Linked DNA regions of Homo sapiens. Changing the gene in region 1 together with any one later gene gives a genetic interaction. Each region holds a gene or a part of one and is shown in the gene's direction. Other genes may lie near its edges.

The links.
Region 2: of MERTK (region 1) and ITGB5, changing one enhances a phenotype caused by changing the other (phenotypic enhancement), as found in Homo sapiens cells (one study listed by BioGRID).

What each region holds. Positions count from the first base shown.
Region 1 is NC_000002.12:111,891,941-111,903,509, forward strand, and holds the start of MERTK (tyrosine-protein kinase Mer precursor), read left to right. Parts: upstream 1-6,666; 5' UTR 6,667-6,795; coding exon 6,796-6,856; intron 6,857-11,569. UniProt on the Homo sapiens protein: Receptor tyrosine kinase that transduces signals from the extracellular matrix into the cytoplasm by binding to several ligands including LGALS3, TUB, TULP1 or GAS6.
Region 2 is NC_000003.12:124,841,185-124,852,034, reverse strand, and holds part of ITGB5 (integrin beta-5 isoform a precursor), read left to right. Parts: intron 1-3,476; coding exon 3,477-3,726; intron 3,727-10,483; coding exon 10,484-10,652; intron 10,653-10,850.

The sequences.
Region 1 (11,569 bases):
CAGTGCCCCAGTGAACCCTAATGTTTAAACATTTGCACATCATAGATATTGTTCAGCATAGTGAAAGGAGTTTTGTACCTATACTATCTCAAGTTTCCAAAAGCTATAAGGGCTAGACACTGATCCTTCCACTTTATTGTTCACCTCTCGAAATGCAGCCTCTACATGCTCTAATAATTGTACTTCCCATATGCAGTTGACTGTGGTGATTTGAGCCTTTTAAACACACAACCTGACTTTGCCTCCCCAACCTCCCCCCAACAAATTACATAAGCTGGATACTAGTATTTCCAGTCTGTTGTTCAGCACATGGAATGAAATGTCCTAGGTTCTCCATCATTACACCCCAACAATTTCAAAAACTGGGCTCTTGGCCTCCTAGTATGTGGCTGAGCATGTTAAAGGAAGTATCATGACAGAACTCTCAATTCCATAACAGACACAAGTGCCAGACAAGGCAACTTCCACTGTACTTCTCAGCACAGTGAAAAAATACACTATCTCATTTTTTTTTTTTTTTTTGAGATAGAGTCTCGCTCTGTGGTCCAGGATGGAGTGCAGTGGTGTGATCTCAGCCCACTGCAACCTCACCTCCCAGGTTCAAGTGATTCTCCTGCCTCAGCCTCCCGAGTAGCTAGGACTACAGGCATGCACCACCATGCCCAGCTAATTTTTTTTATTTTTTTTAATAGATACAGGGTTTCACCATGTTAGCCAGGCTGGTCTCTAACTCCTGACCTCAGGTGATCTGCCCTCCTTGGCCTCCCAAAGTTCTGGGATTACAGGCATTAGCCACCATGCCTAGCCCACTAGCTCATTTTTCTTTTTTTTTTTTGAGATGGAGTCTCGCTCTGTCACCCCAGCCGGAGTGCAGTGGTGCCATCTTGGTTCACTGAAACCTTCGCTTCCCAGGTTCAAGCAATTCTCCTGTCTCAGCCTCTTGAATAGCTGGGACTACAGGCATGTGCCACCACGCCTGGCTAATTTTTTTGGTATTTTTAGTGGAGATGGGGTTTCGCCACGTTAGCCAGGATGGTCTCCATCTCCTGATCTCATGGTCTGCCCGCCTTGGCCTCCCAAACTGCTGGGATTACAGGCGTGAGCCACCGCACCTGGCCCTAGCTCATTTTTCTAACAAACTGTAACACTTAGATATGCTTCTCATGCCTCTTCCAGGATGCTAAATAGGTTGTCACTTACCCACCAACTATAAAAGCTCAACAATTGGCCTTCTGTACCTTGTTCAACACAATGAGGAGCATCTTTAAATGGTGCTGCCCCATTTCCAATGGGATGAGAGTGAGATTTTACTTTTAATGAGTTTTTCAGCCTATTGGATGGATTATCTTGAAAGACACTCCAAGAAACCACTAAAGGAAATACTTTATTCCAGTATCGTGTTCACTGTGCTGAATGGAGTGTTTTACTTGTACTATTTCACTTTACAACAACTATAAAAGCTATTGTACTGTGAGGGTTAATTCCAGCAGGCCTGAAATTAGCTTGAACTGTTTTGAAGTTCCTGCGTGGCAATGACCCCTGGCCAAGAGCATGAAGCATATTGATTAATAATGTTGCTTTTTAACCATCAGTCTGAGGAGCTTCAGGGAAACTTGTACTACCATCAACTTTGCTTTTCGAAAACAATGAGATAAATGATTTGCACCTGGTCTCAGCGAGACCCCTCCAACCCCTGCCACAGGGCTCTGCTGTTGAGGCTGGTTATGCCTTAAGACTATGCCGATGACCAGCAAAATATAAAAATCCCCAGCTGAGACTCCATTTTCGATCCCATTTCTGAGGTGTTCCATGCACACATCAATGGTTTTTGATCCAACAGAGAAAGTGCATCCTGCCACGTTCCTTACAGAAATTAGGACAAAGGAGCTGGCACCTGGCCTATCTGGCCATGAATAGCCTTTGACTGAGATGCTTATTCTTACTTTACTGCTATTTGCTATATTGTGTCCTCTTACTGTAACAAACTCGAGATGTTGGATCTGGTCAGTAATTTTTTAGCAGTGAAACCGTTTAACTTCCACTTAACGATTATACAACTGGCCGGGCGCAGTGGCTCACACCTGTAATCCCAGCACTTTGGGATGCTGAGGCAGGTGGATCATGAGGTCAAGAGATGGAGGCCATCCTGGCCAACATGGTGAAACCACGTCTCTACTAAAAATACAAAAATTAGCTGGGTGTGGTGGCACACACCTATAGTCCCAGCTACTCGGGAGGTTGAGGCAGGAGAATTGCTTGAATCTGGGAGGCGGAGGTTGCAGTGAGCCAAGATCACGCCACTGCACAACAGCCTGGTGACAGAGCAAGATTCGGTCTCAAAAAAAAAAAAAAAGGCAATTATATGACTGCACTTGTGTATGTGTGTTTGATTCAATATTTCAAATGGTTTACATTACCTAAAATATATGCCCCCAAAGGCCTTAAACCTATACTCCCATTATGTTGTTCAGCACATTGAACAGGGTCTCTTCCATGCACTGTCTGTGTTATGCAAGAAACTACAAGATGCTTGTACGTCCCTCAAGATTTTTGGCATTATGAGTTGACTTTTCTTACGGGCACCATTCCAGTTATCCAGCAAATTTTAAGAACTTGGCACTTACATTTCTAATATATTGCTCAGAATACTGAATGAAGGACAAGAGGTCAAGGGGTTTAGAAGCTGTGGTGTTGAAGTACCATTTATAAGGTACCGAAACTACCAAAAGTCATGGCAGGGATAGTGTAAAGGGAGTGACTGTGATGCAGGCGCTGCATCTTCAGAGAATTAGGAGAGACTCAGGGGTCCCTACGTGGCTGCAGCAAGCAGGGCTGGTCTAGTCTAATGACATCAGAGTCAAAGCCAGAGACTAGAGAGTAGGGACACATAATGGTCTTAAGACAGCAAAGAGAATATCACATCCAGACCCAGGGACAGGGAGGTGAGTGTAGGAAGCATGGTTCACCAAAGGAAAACCAGGGTGCTATTACTAGAGTATTGTGGTATGGATGCTAGCTGCTGGGTGAGTGAGTGCCAAAGTGGTCTGAAGATTGCTTTTTTTTTTTTTTGAGACGGAGTCTTTCTCTCTGTTGCCCAGGCTGGAGTGCAGTGGCACCATCTTAGCTCACTGCAACCTCTGCCTCCCAGGTTCAAACAATTCTCCTGCCTCAGCTGGGATTACAGGCATGCGCCACCACAGCCAGCTAATTTTTGTATTTTTAGTAGAGACAGTGTTTCACCATGTTGACCAGGCTGGTCTCGAACTCCCGACCTCAAGTAATCTGCCCACCTTGGCCCCCCAAAGTGTTGGGATTACAGGTGTGAGCCACTGTACCCAGCTGATGGGATAGAAGATTTCTGAGGGAGGTGAACTGGGGGGTCTACATGGTAGACTAGAGGCAGGAGGGGGAAATAAATTACAGGTATAGCTGTAGACAGAGCTGAAAGGGGTAGGGGACAGGGGTAAGAGGACAAAGAGAAGCAAGGTATGGGTTTAGACATAGGGTCATTGAGGACTACGTCTTCACACATTTCATTTGTGTGTGGCCTGGCGCGCTCCTATGGGACCTTCAATTGGAAGCCTCAAGTCCTGTCACTGATACGTTGAACATGTTTGACAGATAGATTGTGACCACAATGCCACTTTACCTTGGTTACAGCTCTTTCACACTTGAATCAGTGGGGGTAATCTTCCCTAGCCCTTAGATGAACACTGCAGCAGGCCTTTAACATTCTCTCTTTTTCTTAGGTATTAAACAGTAGGGGCTCCTACTTGTAGCACAGAGTCTTAGCTGACACAGGAGACACAGTGGGCATTGGAGAATGGGTTCCAGGTAAGTGTCTTCTTGTTGAAGTTGCACAACAGCCTTGGAACTAGTTATGTAATATGGGGTCCGGGTTGTTTTTTGTTTGTTTGTTTGTCGCTCATATTTTCCTACATGTAGTCTGATCACTTGAATAATTAGGACATTAAATTGCAATATCATTTGGATGCACAAGTACAAAATTAACATTGTAGAGCTGACATCTCACAGTTTAGCTAAATTTTGGCATTTGCAGATTTTTAAAAGCATAACTGCAACTTCTTTGACACTTCTATCTTCAAGAGGTTGGGCTTGAACCTCTATGGCTCCTCCCCATGAGGGTGGGGTTGTGACTGCTTCCATCAAGAGAGTAGGGTGGAGTTATGTGACCTCCGAGGCTAGGACATAAAAGGCCACGAAGCTTCCTCCTTGTTTACTGGAATGCTTGCTCTTGGAGCCCTGAGCTGCCATGCAAGACTTCCAGCTACTCCAAGGCCACCATGGAGAAGCCTAGTTTAGGTGCTCCAGTTAGTCTGCAGCCCTAGTGCCCAAGTCATCCCAGTGCAGATGGCAGCTATGTGAGTGAATGAGCCTTGAGATCGGGGTTAGCCAACTTTTTATCTAAAGGGCCAGATTGCATGGCTTTGTGGGCCACATAATCTCTGTCACAATTACCAACATGAATGACTGTGTTTCGATAACGATTATTTGCAAAAAGAAGCCATAGGCCTGCAGGTTATAATTTACTTTACATGATTCTAATCCCCAACCATTTGAGCCTAAGGTCCCAGGCAGATATGGAGGAGCAAGGACAACCTATTTCCCCTGTGCTCTGTCCAAACCTCCGATCCACAGAATTCAGGAATCTAATAAAATGGCTGACATTTTACTCCCACTATGTTTGGGGTGGTATATCAAACACCGGTAGATAGCTGAAGAGTATTGTACAAGGCAGGCCTCAACAAGAAAGTGAGATTTGAGCTGACTTGGAGGAGAGCCAACTGGGAAGCTGTGTGTCTAGGGGAAGAGCATTTCAGGCAGAGAGAACAGCCAGTGCAAACCTTTGGGCGGAGGAGTGCTTGGTATATGTGAGCAATAGCAAGGAAATTGCAGGAGAACAGCTCTGCCGAGGTGTCCTTGGCAATCTTGCACATCTCTCGAGGCCATGTAGGCAAGGTATGACCACGGTCTGACCCAAGTCTTGTTGGACTGCCCTGTGATTTCCCCTAAAGCAGGGATGGGTAAGCCTGGTGAGGAGCCACTGGTAGGCAGTTTCCTATCCCTACCCCATGGGAGACTGCTGCAAGGCCATTTCTCTTCCTTCTCCAACGTTTCAGTTGACTGCAGGACTTTCCATATCCCTCCCTCCACCGCCCAGCCCGCTTCCCTCCAAGCATACAGCGGCAGGCTCCTGTGAAGTCTATAAAACTGCTTGGTGTAATTTAGACTTGGCTACTCAGCGGCAGGGCTCATGTTGTCTTATTTATTTATTTATTTATTTATTTATTTTTGTTAAATTATGTAGACCCATAGGATAACACTGACCCTTCCAGTTTGGTGTTATCTTGTAGGCCTAAGGATGCATGGAGCTGACACCACACTGATTTTGCTTTTGCTGTCGGTGTAAGTAATAACCTGTCTAAACCCATCTGGGCTGCCTGTCTCCTTCCCGTAGCCAAATCTACGGGAAGTGTCCAGCCAGTGTAGGGGTCAAGGGACCGCTTGACGAGACCAACGTAAATTGAAGAGGCGTAAGGAGATGAGGCCAAAGAGGAAAGGGGACCAGGTCACGTAGAACCTCGTAGACCACTGCAGAACCTTGGCTTACGTACGCAGAGACAGCAGGAACCACTGATAGGTTTAGGGAGATTTGAGGAGAGGGACATGATTTGGCTTATGTTATGTTGTTAAAGGGACCACATTAAAATACATTCATTCTAAAAGTGTTACCTTTAAGAAACTACGTATATAAATTAAGTTACTGTTGCCATTATTAGCGTAAGTAGTTACATTTCTCTTACGACTCACTCTCTGCTACTGCCTCTTGGACCCTGCACACCTTGTGGAGGCCCATGAGAGTGACGTGCTGTGGTTCCCCCTCTCCCCACTCCTGCTCTGCACTTTGTCATTCACGTTCATCTCCCTCCTTGAGTGTCACCTCTCTCTGGCTCGTCACGGAGCCACGGCAAAGCGTCCTTTCCCAGGAACCCCTCCCCCTGGGGAGGTGAGCTCCTCGCCGCCAGGGCCGTGTCGCGCACCTCGGGCCGGGTACCCAGGCGGCGCTCGGCGGCGAGCGGAATGGATGTGGAGGAGCGCTCGGCAGGGAGCGCTGCCGCCCTGGCCTTGGCCTCTGGGAGCGGCGCGGCCAGGGTTTTCTGTGTCAGCCAAGCCCGGAATGCGGGGGCGCCTCTGGACCCTCCTCTTGGGTCTGGGGGCTGCCTCGGGCATCCTCTACTCCTCTCCCACCTTCTGTCCTTCCCCATCTCCCACCCACACGTGTGGGGCCCCGGACCCGCGCAGCGGCCAGAGCCTTCCGCTGTGGACCTCCAGTCCACCCCTCCCCTTCACTTCTCTTTCCGGCTCCCTCCGGGTCTCTCAGCCCCCTCCCCTTCCTCTCCGCCCCCTTCCCCGCCGTCTGCCCAGCGGCGGCCTTCGGCCCGCCCCTTCTCTCCAACCCCCTCCCTTTCCCCTTTACGCCCCTCCTCCCCCTCGTCCTCCCGCCCCCTCCCACCCCAACCTGCTGGGCCCGCCGGGACTCGCCCCCCTGCCCGCTCCTCTCCTCCAGCCCCGGCCGGCCTCGGCTCGGCCCCCGGCCCGCCCCTTCCAGCCCTCGGCACCTCCCGCCGGCCGCTTGGCTCCGCCACTCGGCACTCACTGCCCGGGCCGCCCGGACAGGGAGCTTCGCTGGCGCGCTTGGCCGGCGACAGGACAGGTTCGGGACGTCCATCTGTCCATCCGTCCGGAGAGAAATTACAGATCCGCAGCCCCGGGATGGGGCCGGCCCCGCTGCCGCTGCTGCTGGGCCTCTTCCTCCCCGCGCTCTGGCGTAGAGGTGAGTGCGCCCGGCTGGGGGCCAGGCGAGGGGGTGGGGGCTCCCAGGAGGAAGCAGGGGCCTCTGGGGAGGGAGCGCGTCCACAGGGGCGCGCCTGGCTGCTGGACAAGTTTGCAAACACCCTCCACCCACTGCGGTGCCAGAGGAGGGGGCGTAGGCGAACCTACCGTCCACTGACCGCGGCGCCTCAAGCGTCCCGAGGGCACCCAGCCTGGCTTGCGGGTGCGCATCGTGGTGAAGCCGGGTCGGGGTCGGCGTTGCAGGCTCCCCTCTTCACCGCAGAGGAGGAAATCGAGCTCGGCCGGGCGCGCTGCAAGTCCTGAAGTTCCGACGAGTGGAACGTAGGTAGCAGGTCTGGTCTGGGATGCGACGAGAACTTTCCACTAGAGTTGCATGGTGGGGCCCCGCTCTGGCCGGAGTCCCGGGGGCCACAGATCCGGTCTCCCGAGGGACCGGCGCGGGGCGAACGAACGGGCTGCGGGAGTCGGAGCCGCAGTCCGGGAGCCGCGATAGACTGAGGCCGAGCGACGGGCCAGGGGGGGACGGCAGTCCTGGCTGCTCCCAATGGGCCCTTACGGGCATTATTAGTATCCCTTTTTAGGGGCACCCAGAGAGTGTGGGAAAAGGGGAGCGTTCTTTTCACTCCTGTTATGGCAGAACAGAACTTACAGTGCTCGGCAGCGTTTACGTTTATCTGGATTCAGCGAAGTGTTGTTACAGGCTTTTTTTTTTTTAATTTGAGACCGAGTCTCGCCCTGTCGCCCAGGCTGGAGTGCCGCGGCGCGATCTCGGCTCACTGCAGGCTCCGCCTCCCGGGTTCAAGCGATTCTCCTGCCTCAGCCTCCCGAGTAGCTGAGACTATAGACGCGCGCTACCACGTCCGGCTAATTTTTGTATTTTTAGTAGAGACGGGGTTTCACCATGTTGGCCAGGATGGTCTCGATCTCTTGACCTCGTGATCTGCTCTCCTTGGCCTCCCAAAGTTCTGGGATTACAGTCGTGAGCCACCGCGCCCGGCTTGTTCCAGGCATTTTAATACAAGATGCTGGACTGATACGTGGAGGCAAGGAAGGCCGGTTTCATTCTGCTTGAACAGCTTATTTGGGGAGTGAGTGATGAACAGATTTCAAGTTTGATCGCTGATGCACTTCTTGAGGAGGCTGGAATAAACTTACCAGGCTTTACCCAAAAGAAAAAGAAAGGGGAAAAATGCTAAATAAACACATTCCAAGTATTTTCTCTCAGCTAAAAGGTTTCTATTTCCATTCAGCATGTAGATTTTCTCTCTTTTGATCGAGAATGCACTTGACTAGCCTTCACCTATTACAGTCAAAGATGTTTTTTAGGAATACCTGGAAAGCTCAGTTTATAGTCAAGTAAGTTACTTAAAAGTTTTTCCTTTGAGATTTTCCTTTGAAAGCTCATTTACTCAAATGAAAAATTCTTAAACAGTGCACCCACTTTTTGCACGTTAAATTACATAAGCAATTTATAATTTGGGGCAACATAGCAATTTGAAACAAACTTTAAGAGCCAGGCAAAGAACTAAAGCAGTTCTGTTCTCCACTGCCCCTCCCTCCACCAAACCTTCAAAAATTCCTCAGCATTTCTGCCAGCCCCATTTTTCATAATCTGCTGCAAATCTGTTATTTGTTGCTACTAGTGAGGACTGGCCGTGAATAGTCTTGGAGGTAGTGAATGTGGTGAGAACTATGGAGAAAGTAATGGGAACAATAGTTTTGTGTTAAATACTTAAAAATTGGAGTGCTTTTGTTTTTCTAAAATTTTAAAAGGCTGTAATAACAAATTTTTGTAGCTGACAATCAACTTTAATCAGACAATCATAAAAAGGCCTTTTAAAATCCACCCAGCTGGAAGAATGAAAAGTTTCACCAATCGTTCTTGCACTTTTTGCTTTTGGTTTTGAACTTTACCTATGAGATGTGTGACAGTTTTACATCTCACCTTGTGAAAAGCTTAAAGAATGGGATTCTCACTGGCAGAATTACAGCACAAAGGAGTGCTGTATGAAGAAATTAAACATGGAAATTAGACTCTTCATCTAATTTTAAGATTTTCCTATTACACATTGTGGGTCTGAGTGCTTTGCTGACCACACAGGGGAGACAGAGAGAGAGACAATGAGAATATGTGTGTAGATTCTACACTGTTAGCAGTATAGAAGAATGGGTAAATAAAATTTAAGCATCACTTTAACCCAGGAAATCCCCTCTGCCCCCCAACACACATACACACTACACGTCTCACAAAGACATGCACACACAGAACTGGAACTGCCAAACCAGGAGCATTTCGAGGCTTTCCAGTCTTTCCTTTCTGCTCAGTCTCTGATGGGGGTGCCATTGAGCAGCAAAATGAGGCAAGCGGTGGCTCTCTGAAGGGCCAGGGAGAGGATGGAGCAAGATAAATATAAATGTGGATAAAAATGAATGCATTATGAGGACTTAGCTCATGACGAGGCTGTGTGTGCAGCTAAACTCAACCCTTAGAGTAAATTAGGCTTTTAAGATTCTTTAATGTTAATATTTCTTTTCCAAACTGATATTGTAACATGTATTCCAGTATATTGTAAACATCTTCCCAGAGGGAACTTTTAAGTTGTTCTGTTGCTTGTGGGCTTTATTCCAAAGGCTTCAAATGCTTTTTGAAAGTACATCGTGCATATTTTAAAAATGAATACTTTTAGAAAATTATTCTGACCCATTAAAGTGCTGAGTGGAATTCTTTTCTTTTCTTTCTTTCTTTTTTTTTTTTTTTTGGCAGGTTCTCATTCTGCCACCCAGGCTAGAGTGCAGTGGCACCATCACGGCTCACTGCAACCTCAACCTTCCGGGCTCAAGTGATCCTCCCACCTCAGCCTCCCAAGTAGCTATGACCACAGGCACATACCACCATGCCTGGCTAATTTTTTATTTTTTGTAGAGACAGGATCTCACTATGTTGCCCAGGCTGGTCTTGAACTCCTGGGCTCAAGCGATCTTCCCACCTTAGCCTCTCAGAGTGTGGGGATTATAGGCATGAGCCACCATGCACAGCTGAATACAATTTTTAAAAAATTAACAATAATTATGTTTTTTTGTTTTTGAGATAGAGTTTCACTCTTGCTGTCCAGGCTAGAGTGCAATGGCACAATCTCGGCTCACCGCAACTTCCCGCCTCCCGGGTTCAAGCAGTTCTCCTGCCTCAGCCTCCTGAGTAGCTGGGATTACAGGCATGCACCACCACGCCTGGCTAATTTTGTATTTTTGGTAGAGACAGGGTTTCTCCGTGTTGGTTAGGTTGGTCTCGAACTCCCAACCTCAGGTGATCTGCCTGCCTTGGCCTCCCAAAGTGCTGGGATTACAGGCATGAGCCACCACACCCAGCCAATAATTATATTTTTAAATCTTAATTTTTGAAATAATTTCCAGATAATTGTAGAAGGGCCAGTGAGTTACTAGTCAGCATTGGTCAAGAAGAGGTTCAATCTTTTTATGCCTGTGAATTGGGAACATGCTGCTGGGTAGAAAAACTGAGCTGGGACCTTGAACACACATGTGAAACAGTCGCTTTCCATATAATAGCCAGAATGAGATTTTGGAAACGAATCTGATTGTATTTTCCATTTGAAAATCTTCCAGTGGCTTCCTGTTCCCTACTAGAATTTGCAGAGACTCACAGCGAACCTCTTTGACCCATTTCCATTCACTTCCCTCTTGTTCCTACCACTCCAGCCACCTGTGTCTTCTTTCTAGGGCCTGAGCAGCCTTTGCAGTGACTCTTCCCTCTGGCTGGAACCTTTTTCCCAAGATCTCGGCATGCTGGCTTCTTCTCATCCTTTGGGTTTCAGTTCAGAGGTTCTCCTTGAGAAGCCTTCCCCAATAACCACCCCCTGCCAAAGTATCATATGCATACACCCCACTATCCCTTAAATTTAATTTCCTGATAATGCTTCTCACAACCTGATCAGTTCCTTCCTTCCTTCCTTCCTTCCTCCCTCCCTCCCTCCCTCTATTTCTTTATTGACAGAGTCTTGCAATGGCAAATTCTCTGCTCACTGCAACCTCCGCCTCCCAGGTTCAAGCAATTCTCCTGCCTCAGCCTTCCCAGTAGCTGGGATTACAGGCACCTGCCACCACAGCTGGCTAATTTTTGTATTTTTAGTAGAGACAGGGTTTCACCATGTTGGCCAGGCTGGTCTCGAACTCCTGACCTCAGGTGATCCGCCTACCTCAGCCTCCCAAAGTGCAGAGATTACAGGCGTGAGCTATGGCACCCAGCCTTACCTCTTTGTTTACTCCTTTTCCTCCACTGTCCCCCCACCACAAGGTAAGCTCCTGGTGGCAGGGCTGCTGTCTTTTTCACTGCTAACACAGCATGGAGCTCATACGGGTGCTCAGTGAGTATCAGAGCACAGCATGAAGGAACCAAGCCCCTGCATGTCTTACCAGGTGCTCTTCACCCTTATCTTTTCCTACTGGCTTTTCCAGAAACAGAATTGCTGGAGCTCCCATGCCCTCACATTCGGGGCTTGGTTAATAGAAAACAATCTTTTATTTTGCTGTGATGCCAATGTGATTTCATTGCTGGAGGAGCTAGTCAATTAAAACCAGACAGATTTTTGGGCTGTATTAACCCCAAACATATTTTACATTGTCCTAACTATTCCAACTAGAAAAAAAAATGTCAGAAGGTAATTTTTCATGTTAAACA
Region 2 (10,850 bases), on another chromosome or scaffold:
CTGGAAGTGTACCCAAAGTTGGAAAACATACCCAAGACCTTCTCTCAGCAGAAAGTGCACTTCACATGCATTAATGGCTTCACCTTCAGGCTGTTAACGTTAGAGGCCTCCCTTTTTGGGGAGTTGTTGGTACACTGGAAGCTTAATGCCCACACCATGGATCTGACCAGGAATGTCAGTCCCTCCAGGATCTGCTGACAGAACATTCTGTCATTGCCACGGCCTATTCAGGAGTCTGTGGCATTTAAAATCAAGTATATTAGAGGCAGCAATAAACCCTCATTCTGAACATCAGTGGTGTTACCATCTTTCTTACATCCCTCTCTTTCTGGAAAAATGGCACACTATTTCTTTTTAACAACTGCAGCCTTCCTTTGGGAAGGGATGTGTGCGTGTGTGTGTGTGTGTGTGTGTGTGTGTGTGTGTTTTCTTACTGATCAATTTCTCTTAGAATGTAATGCCAAGAAGTTTCTTGCTTCAGAATAGATAGCCTCTTAGGATACAAAGGGACCTATATATCATGCCTTCTTTCCCTCAGCCCTCATGTCTGGAAAATTTAGGGTTAAATTTGTATGCCCAAGGCTGTAGCTGTTGAAATTCAAGTTGCTGGCAGGATTTTCTGTCTCTCTTTTTATCCTCACAGGAAATTGCTTCAGTAATTGACTTTTGGGAAAACCGAGGCCAAAGTTTTCTTTGTGTAGGAACATTTGTGTGGTGTTTATCTCTTTTAATCCCTATAATAGTTAATATCCTCCCCACTTGACTGATGCAGAAACCGAGCAGTGAGTTGAAGAGAGCCTGAGTTCTCCCTAGTCCTTGGTGACAGGGTCTGGATTCAAACCCAGCTTTCCTGCTTCCAAGCCTCTATCCCATAGATGCCTCTCAGCCTCCCGGAATCCAAGCCAATTATTTGTTTCCTGGTTTTAAAGTGCCCATCTGTTAATTTCTTATAATTCGTAAAAAAGTAGAAGTAGATTTTGGATAAAATAAGTTGTAGGTGGGAACTTGGGGGGACAGGTGGCAGAAAATGCAGAAGACCTGTGAAAAGATCATGGCATCAGGCAGAGGAAATAGGATTGCAGGCTCTGTCCATTTGGGGTCTGTTGTCTGCCCATGCAAGGGCCAAGGAGGGAGCTCCCTTCCCCCAACTCCCCCCTCTTCCCTGCCCCTCCCTCACTGTGATGTGGCACCCAAGGAGCCCTCTGGCGGGACAAGCTGTGTCTGTCTGACCAAAGGCAGACACTGCAGCAGCCTGGAATTCATTCTGGAAGAAAACCTTGAACATTCCTCTGTTTGAGTCAGACTCTGATGGTTTTTTTTTTTGTTTTTTTAAATTATTATTATTATACTTTAATTTTAGGGTACATGGGCACAATGTGCGGGTTAGTTACATATGTATACATGTGCCATGCTGGTGCGCTGCACCCACTAACTCGTCATCTAGCATTAGGTATATCTCCCAATGCTATCCCTCCCCCCTCCCCCCACCCCATGGTTTTAAAAAATAGGCTTATACCAATAGGCAACTCAAACTCCATCAATCCTGAGGCGCCTAGAACAGTACACGCAAAGACAAGTCAGGGGAAGCAGGCTCAGAGCTGCCACTCTGACTGCAAGCAGTAATGATCATAATCATACTTCATCCGTGCAAGCCTGTACTGCTCATAAAACACTGCTCTCCCTCATGAGCGCATCATAGGCTTAATTGATGCTGTGAGCATTGTTACTTCCATTTTATATTTCAAGAAACCGTGGCCCAGGTTGCACTCCTATTCAAGGGACAGAGCTGGAACTTGAACTAAAATCTTTTGATCATTGGATTCTTCGTGATCTAGTTAGTGAAATATGCCTTGTTGTCACGGTGGGAGGAGGAGAGGAAGCATAGAGGATTGAGTTCCCTGCAAGTTAAAGAAGGCTTCAGCTTGCTAGTTGTCAGCTTGAGATGAAAGACTGGTTGCTCTGAGATGTGGCTGCCGGCAAGTCAGGTGTAGACCCGCTGGGCAGGAGTGAGGCCACCTTTGCTGTTGTGCCTCTACACACACAAAGAATCTATCCAAATTTCAAGTATGTGTAGACAGTTCTACTGCAGGATAAATAGGGCATCTCTTGGCACTCCTGAAAGGTTAATAAGCCCAAGGCAGATAGAATGATCTGGTATGAGTTGAGCCTTAAAGTTGGTTCTAAGTGATTTGTTTTTAGAAATTATGAAATGATTTCAAGATCATTATCGTGGCCTGGGTCTTCCAGTTATTGCCCTGACTTGAGCCTCTCTTTGAACTCTATAGGGTGAGACAGAAAAGGCCACACCTGCCAGACACTAGCTTTTCTCTTTGTTCTTTTCCTCTGAATTAATTCCCCTTTTCTCTGCCTGTTGGCTATCTTATTGTAGCTGGTAGACAAATCTAGTGCTGTCTTTTCTCTTTCTTCTTGTTTTCTTTTTTCGATAGAGCTAAAATTTGGAATCTGTCTTCCTGTATTTATATATGTAGTTTCCAATGATAATGAGTTGTGCCTGTGATGTCCCAAAACATCAAATATGCCCCCCAAATAAATACTAGTCTGGTAAATGGCGAGAGAAATAGAAACAAACACAGGTGATGTGGCATAAGCATGCATATTTTTGCCCATTGGGGTATTTTAAACAACGATCTTTGTTTCTCTGCCCTCCCTTGCCTTGCACATCTCTCTCCCCAACTTGGTTCTTCCCCACTCAGGCCCACACCCCTCTTTTGTTCATTTCTTCCCTGCTTTTTGTTTCAAACGCACATTCCCATCGTGACTGGGTCTTTCTCTGGAGTTGGTATGTGGTTGGTGGGCTACTCTCCACCCAGTTTGTGTTCATGAAATTGTCTGGTTCACTGTCCACTGATTACTCAAGGGTCTTTGTTGCTGAGAAGACAGAACACTACCAAGGAGCCTGGTTGTTAAGGAGTTTCCTTAGAAATGCTAAGCCCAGGCCAGGCGTGGTGGCTCACACCTGTAATCCCAGCACTTTGGGAGGCTGAGGTAGGTGGATCACTTGAGGCCAGGAGTTGGATACCAGCCTGGTCAACATAGTGAAACCCCGTCTCTACTAAAAATGCAAAAATTAGCCAGGCATGGTGGTGGGCACCTGTAATCCCAGCTACTCAGGAGGCTGAGGCATGAGAATCGCTTGAACCTGGTAGGCAGAGGTTGCAGTGAGCCAAGATCGCACCACTGCACTCCAGCCTGGGCGACAGAGCAACACTGTCTCAAAAAAAATAAAATAAAATAAAAAAAGAAGTGCTAAGCCGAATGTTTAGGAAGGAGAACCCAGGCCTCCATTCTCAGCACCGTATTCCCTTCAGGCACTTTACTTCCAAGAAAAATCTTCTGTGAGGCACACAATCACTAAAGAAAAGTAAGAGGCAAACTAGCTTTGAAAGCAAATCCCATCCCTCAGCCCTCAGCAGGTTGCACAACCTCTAACACACGTGGCCTCTCTGTTGGTGCAGGTGACAAGACCACCTTCCAGCTACAGGTTCGCCAGGTGGAGGACTATCCTGTGGACCTGTACTACCTGATGGACCTCTCCCTGTCCATGAAGGATGACTTGGACAATATCCGGAGCCTGGGCACCAAACTCGCGGAGGAGATGAGGAAGCTCACCAGCAACTTCCGGTTGGGATTTGGGTCTTTTGTTGATAAGGACATCTCTCCTTTCTCCTACACGGCACCGAGGTACCAGACCAATCCGTGCATTGGGTAAGTGACCAGTTGCCCTTCTGTTGGGTACTTAAGGGTGGGAGAATGGAGAAGCAGGAAAATTTAGCTCAAAGAAAGAATTAAGGAAGGCATGGTTAGGAGGGGTGGCCAGGCTTAGGCGTTTAATTTGATTAATGATAAGCATACATTCTCTCCTTTCCTGACGTGTGAAGAAGTGAGTGAACTGTCACAAGGTTGTAAAGATAAAATGATCACAACCCCTTGATTTTCCTGCCTGCCATGCACAGCACCATTTGCTCACATTAATAGAATTCAGAAAATGTCCTCAGGGAGTGATGGATCCAGATTATCAGGGAGGCAGCAGGCAGGGCAACTTAAACTTTCCCCTTGCTTGTAGTAACTGAGGTGCTTTGGGAGAAATGAATTCAAAATTTGTCCCTGTTGTTTTTCTATAAATAACTATAACTTATTTTCACATAATTAGATTAAAATCCTATTTTAAATGTAAGAATTTTTTTTTCAACATAAACACCTGAACTAGAAAAGATTTGACATATTATTAGAAAACAGGTGTCTCTAACTGCTGCCAGATTCTATAATAACAAAGTGTATAATGGCTCAAACTTGCTGGAAGTTTATTTCCTGCTCCTCAAGTCCAACTGGGTCTCTTCATCCATGGAACTTCTCCTGCAAGCAGTGACTCAGGGACTCAGGTGCTTTCCATCTTCCAGGCTTTACCATCTTCCACACATGGCTCCTAAGGTCATGCTGCCTAGAGGGTCATGCATAGGAGGATAGGCCTTTGCCATGCCCGCTCCCACATGCTATTAGACGGAACAGGACTGAGCCAGGAGGCTGGGAACTAGTGTAGCTGTAGGCCCAGGAATCAGAAGAAATAGGATTAGTGAGCAGGTCTCTGCCATGGGACGTTTGTATGCATGCTGGGGTGGGTGGTTGTATGAGGGGATTGCATTCTTCAGCCCATGCAACACAACCTCTACTAGGTTGGTTTCTTTTCTTTTTAGTCTTTCAGGAGTTTCTTTAAATGTCAAGATTATGCAAGTGACTGCAGTGAGTGGTAACTTCCAACTCTTGCTTTCCTCATCTCCACATTTAACTTTAGTGAGGGTTTGTGTTGTAAGGTCCAAAACTAGTCATGAGATAGGAAATAACTAAGACTTAAGTTTTTACTAAGTGTCAAGCCCCATACTAAATATTTTCTGTGGATTATCTCATTTAAATCTCATAACAATCTGTTGAGGTCTCTAAGGTAAGTGTAAGCCAGATTTTAGAGATGCAGAAACTGAGGCCTAGAGAGAATAACTTACCCAATATTATACAAACAGCAAGGGGTAGAGCTGGAATATGAATACAGACAAACTACTTTTAGAGTCTGCATTTGCATTTTTTTTTGAGACGGAGTCTTGCTCTGTTGCCCAGGCTGGAGTGCAGTGGTGCAATCTCGGCTCCCTGCAACCTCCGCCTCCCGGGTTCAAGCCGATTCTCCTGCCCCAGTCTCCTGAGTAGCTGAGATTATAGGTGCCTGCCACCACACCTGGCTGATTTTTGTATTTTTAGTAGAGATGGGGTTTCACCATGTTGGCCAGGCTGGTCTTGAACTCCTGACGTCAAGCGACCCATCCACCTCAGCCTCCCAAAGTGCTGGGATTACAGGCATGAGCCACTGCATCCGGCCTGCGTTTGCGTTTAATATAATGTCTTCTTCCCCATTCAAATCACACTACAACACAGACACTTTACCTTAGGCTGAGTAATAATACCTGTCCCTAAACCACCCTACCCCCATGTCCTAGGGGCTTACCTGAGGATCATGGTAGGTTATGCTGCAGTAACGTAGAGTCTCCAAATCTCAGTGGCTCAACACAATGAACGTTTTTTTTTTGTTGGTTTTTTTTTTTTTTGCTTGTGCAACATCTGATGAGGGCTGAGCTGCTTTCCTTGGCAGCTCTCCATGCAGTAACTCAGGGATCCAGCTCCTTCCATCTTGTGATGCCATTCTCAATTCTTGGTCTTCCAGCTGCCACCAAGGGGAGAGAGCTGTTCTTAAATCCCTGAGCCCTCCCCTCTCCACAAGTCCTCTTTGGTAGCCTTCAGAGCTCCTAGCTCCAAGTTGGGCTGGGTGATAGGAGCAAGTTAGTGTGCTGGTGGCATAGGCTCTTCTGAATCCCTCCAGATCCTTCTGTATACTCTCCCAGAAGCTGACTTAGATCTTTTCAGGTATTGGGAACTGACACTGGTGGAAAAACAGACAAGAAAAAGTTTTAAATACAAATGAACTCTAAATTCTTTAACCACGAAGAGGCACTAGGCATCATCATTTGCTGGGTTTAGCTTCCTCCTGGCGACAGGTGGCCACAGGGACTATTACTACTTTGATTCTGTCTCCAAGGCCCTTTTCAGCTAAGTCTGGGTGTCAAATGTTTTTGTTGAAATTTTGCTGCTTACCAGGAGCAACAGCATCTTAACTGCAAGCCTTAAGCCTTTTTTCAATTCATCTGAAATAGTGATTTTATTTGCTTCTTTTCACCTCTGTCCTAATTGGGCCCTGTCTCCAGACAGATAGGGTGTGTCCCCACTTTCATTCTTCCAAGGCCCTTCCACTGACCGAGACACTAGATTGGAAGCTGGCAGAGAATCAAGGGCTGGCTCTAGGCGCTCAGCATTTAAATATTCAAAGTTATGACACATCATTACTTATTCAGAGCTCACTCTCTAAGTCCTCTAAGGCAGAGCCTGTTGCAGACAGTAAAACTCCTGACAGTGAGTACAAGGCACACTGAAAAGCTACTTGTAAGGCAGGAAGTCCAGTGAAGAATGAGAATGTGGAAGGAAACCTCGGGCCTGAGTTATGTGAAGCTCTCTTCTCTGAGCTGGGGAGGCACACGCAGCGTGGGGGCACACTGTGGCTTGGTGAGCAGGCCGAGCTTTGTCTCCCCACGTCCAGGCAGCACGGCATCCTGTGTCTCCTGGGTTCAAGTGATTCTCCTGCCTCAGCCTCCTGAGTAGCTGGTATTACAGGCACGTGCCACCACACCCAGCTAATTTTTGTATTTTTTAGTAGAGATGGGGTTTCACCATGTTGGCCAGGCTGGTCTTGAGCTCCTGACCTCAGGTGATCCACCCACCTCAGCTTCCCAAAGTGCTGAGATTACAGGGGTGGGCCACCACGCCCAGCCTAAAGTATTTTAAATTATTCTGTTTCTGTTTCTTGAATTGTGGATCCTTCAGGTGGATCCACAGCCAGTCAGTGTATTGGACCTGCTGACATGCCTTCATGAATTGTTTTTCATGCAATTTATAAGCTTTTCATTAGCTCTTCCTTGGAGGTTGTGGGGGCATCCCTGCAGAGCAGTTTTATGTTTGCCGTTGTCGAGAATCTCCAGGTTCACCGTGGGACTAGTTTTTCTGTTAATTTTTCAAATGGAGATGTCTTCACCATAAAAGCAGTGTATTCCAATTGCTCAGGCCTGGAGTTACAGTTTTTATGGGTAATTCATCTCATTCATGGTAGATGGTCAGCTTCCGTGCTGCTTTCCTAGACCAGTAGCTGGAGTTTTTCTGTTTCTGGTTTTAGTAGCACAGCAGCTCATTGTGCTGTTCGGCTTTATGCAGACAGCCCTATTCCAGTGTTCAGCCCTCTGCAGGACTGAGGCTCAGCATCTATTCCTGGTAGACCCTGCTCCAAGCCTGTAGGGCCTCAGTCAAGGCCTGACCCATTGCGGGGGTCCTTGGCATGAGTGCCTGCCCATTTCCTACCTTTTTTTTTTGAGACCGAGTCTTGCTCTGTTACTCAGGCTGGAGTGCAGTGGCGGGATCTCAGCTCACTGCAACCTCCACCTCCTGGGTTCAAGTGATTATCCTGACTCAGCCTCCTGAGTAGCTGGGATTACAGGTGCCCACCACCATGCCCAGCTAATTTTTGTATTTTTAGTAGAGATGGCGTTTCACCACGTTGGCCAGGCTGGTCTTGAACTCCTGACCTCAGGTGATCTGCCTGCCTCAGCCTCCTAAAGTGCTGAGATTACAGGCGTGAGCCACTGCACCCAGCCCCCACCTATTCTTTTAAGTCCATTCATTTGTTTTTTGGTGTTTTCTTTTTTTTTTTTTTTTTTTTTTTTTTTGCCAAAACCAAATACTTCTGAAAGGTCCATTCATTTATTGAATGGTTTCCTCTTCGTTTCTGGGATTTACTTTCTAAGCTTCCAGCCTAGGCTATATATTAAAAAATTTTAAATTACATTTTATCCAGCAGTTGTATATGTTTAGAGTTAGAAGAAGCAGATAAGATGTTTTCATTCCTGTTCCATGACATGGAGAGCCTTTCCATGTCAGCTTGATCCATGATATTCTCCTGAGGCATTAGATTGTTTTCTGGATTTGCCTAGGTCTGGTGTCTTCAAATTGGATTCACTTTTTATACATACAGACACTCCCTTGGCTCTTTAACCATATATATTTTATTTTTTATCTCCCTTGTTAATAATCCTTAATTTAGTAACTCTGTATGCATGGCGCTTATTTGGGGTCTCACAGCACAGACACATGAGAGGGGTAGGATAGTCTCCTGGCATGACCCCAGAACGTCCGGATCTTCAGGCCACTCAGACAGCTGCTCTGGGGTTAAGTCAGATAACTCATCACAGGTGACATCCTATTCCAGTGTCAGTGGAGACTCTCCTAGCGTCTGTGTGACAAAGCTCTTTTCCTAAGTGACTCTGACTTGGTTATAGTAAATTCTCTACAATGAAGGCTTCTCTCTGGCAAACACATCTTCTAATTCCTAACTACTTAACAGTCATTCTTTGCAGTAAAAATGTATCTGCTCATTGCTGTTTGCGGGAGTGAAAGGGAGGAGGTAAAACATGCTGAGCTGTAGCTGAGTTTGTCACAGCTTTCCTGGTTAAACAGCAATCATTATTCAGTTTCTTTTCTCCCTGTCCGCAACCAACCGGACCAAGTGTAAAAAAACCACACACCTGAAGTCCTAAATCATGGGCCAGAGCCACATAGGCCAGGGCAGGATCTTGGAGGAAGAGAGAGGGGGAGAGTTTGGATAGACTTACTTCCTTCTGGGCCTATGATCCACTTGCCAAATAGCTACAGATGGGACCTCAGTTCCTTCTTCCAGCTGGGAATGTAATTTCCATGATTGTTCTTTTCATGACAAAATGAGGAGGTAATGGAAAGTTTGGGTGGCCCGAGGCTGAGGTTAAAAGAGAGTTCCACCTGTCCAAGTACAAGGTGTTCATGAAGACTTCGGGAAAGGAGAAGGGAGAAACACAAAGGAAAGCCAGGCAGGGAGATCCCATCGCTGCCGCCGGCCCCGAGAGGGAGAGCGCGACTATCACAGGAGTGGGGCTGATTGATTCTGTGCAGGGTGGGCCTGTTGCTGGGGACTCTGTGCTGTGCTGTTGTGACTGTGTGGATGGAGAAGGGACTGTAGCCCTGAGAGGGAATGGAATAGCCCCTTAGAGAACCAAAGATTGCCCCTTTACAGAAGGGAGCCTGCCCAGACCTGCCCTGGTGAGTCTGCTTTTTGACAGCATTTAAGGCAGGGTCCTCCTAGCTGTTGCTAAGGCTGTTTTCTTTCCCATGTATGCAGCTTGAATTAGATTATAAAGCCTTTCCCTCAGGCCTGTTAGTGCTCGTTTTCCATCATTTATCCTGAAAGAGCGACTTCCTTAACATGGCTGGAGACCCTGCACAGTCTGGCCCAGCCTGCCTCCCAGGCTCCTCCTCGCCCATCCTCACCCGTTACTCTGCACCACAGCCCCCCGACCTCCCTCTGTCCTTGGGCTCTGTGCTCCCTTCTGCCACAGGACTCTTGCACATGCTCTTCTCTGGCTGGGACACTCTCCCCTCTTCCCTTTACTTTGTGAACCCATTGGTAAAACAATATAAGCTCTCTCTTCCAACTTTATTAGTTCTAGATCAAGCTGAAACTCTTAGAGCTGTAATGGAAAGTAACTCCCTTCAGGAATAGGGCCACTTGGAGTCTCCACAGGAGACTGAAAAGGAGATCACCCCATATTTCAGGAGAAAGGCTTGGTATTAACCTATTATTGATGTGTAATACTTCCTTCTTTTGTAATTTCCAGACATAACTTTCCATTTGAAGATGCTTAGTTTCTAAATAATTTTTATTGCATTTAGCAGAATTGATAGTTTGTTGGTACAATATTTAGAAACGAATGAAGAAGCAGATAAGATGTTTTCATTCCTGTTCCATTCAGCATTTGTCCATGTGCCTGCACATCCTGGTCACTGAGTGGATTGACATGACAAGATTATGTGATCCTGTGATCCTTTGTTGCGTGGCAGCAACATTGATGTAGAAGCTGGTTGCATGGAGTAACTGCACTTACATTGCCCTCACTGGGCATCATCCATGTTCCTTAGCCCAGAGGACACTTCCTCTCCACTCTGCCTAGGCTGGCCCACACCCCGGGTCCCACATACCTTTCAATGCCTATGTCAAGTCTTCCTCCAACCACAGTAGCCTACTATTATCTCTGTTTCCTTTGAACAATTTGTCCATACCATTCATTTATAACTTGGCATATACTGCCTTGCCTGCAGTTTAGGGCTGATGTTTGGAGAACAGGAACTATGTTATTTATCTTTGCTCTCTCTGCTGTGCCTGTCCTGGGGCATGTGGTAGGTGCTGGGTAAATAGTTATTGGTGCCTCTCAAGGCACTCAGTGAATGCTCAGAACACTTGGTTAAGATTTACAGACAATGATGGAAAAGTGACTCTTCTCTTCTTCCTCTCTAGTTACAAGTTGTTTCCAAATTGCGTCCCCTCCTTTGGGTTCCGCCATCTGCTGCCTCTCACAGACAGAGTGGACAGCTTCAATGAGGAAGTTCGGAAACAGAGGGTGTCCCGGAACCGAGATGCCCCTGAGGGGGGCTTTGATGCAGTACTCCAGGCAGCCGTCTGCAAGGTAACTTTCCTTTCTGGTCCTGTCCCTGCATGGGGAGGTCAAGGTAGAGAGCGTCAGTGGGTGTTGGTACTTCCTGCAGGAGTCTTTGAGTGCCCCAGCATGTGGCTCCTGACCACTCTGAAGTCAGAGGGTGAGCTCAGTGGAACTTCTGGGAAATCTACAGCAGTCAAATCAGCCGGAGCTCGGGAATGGATTGGG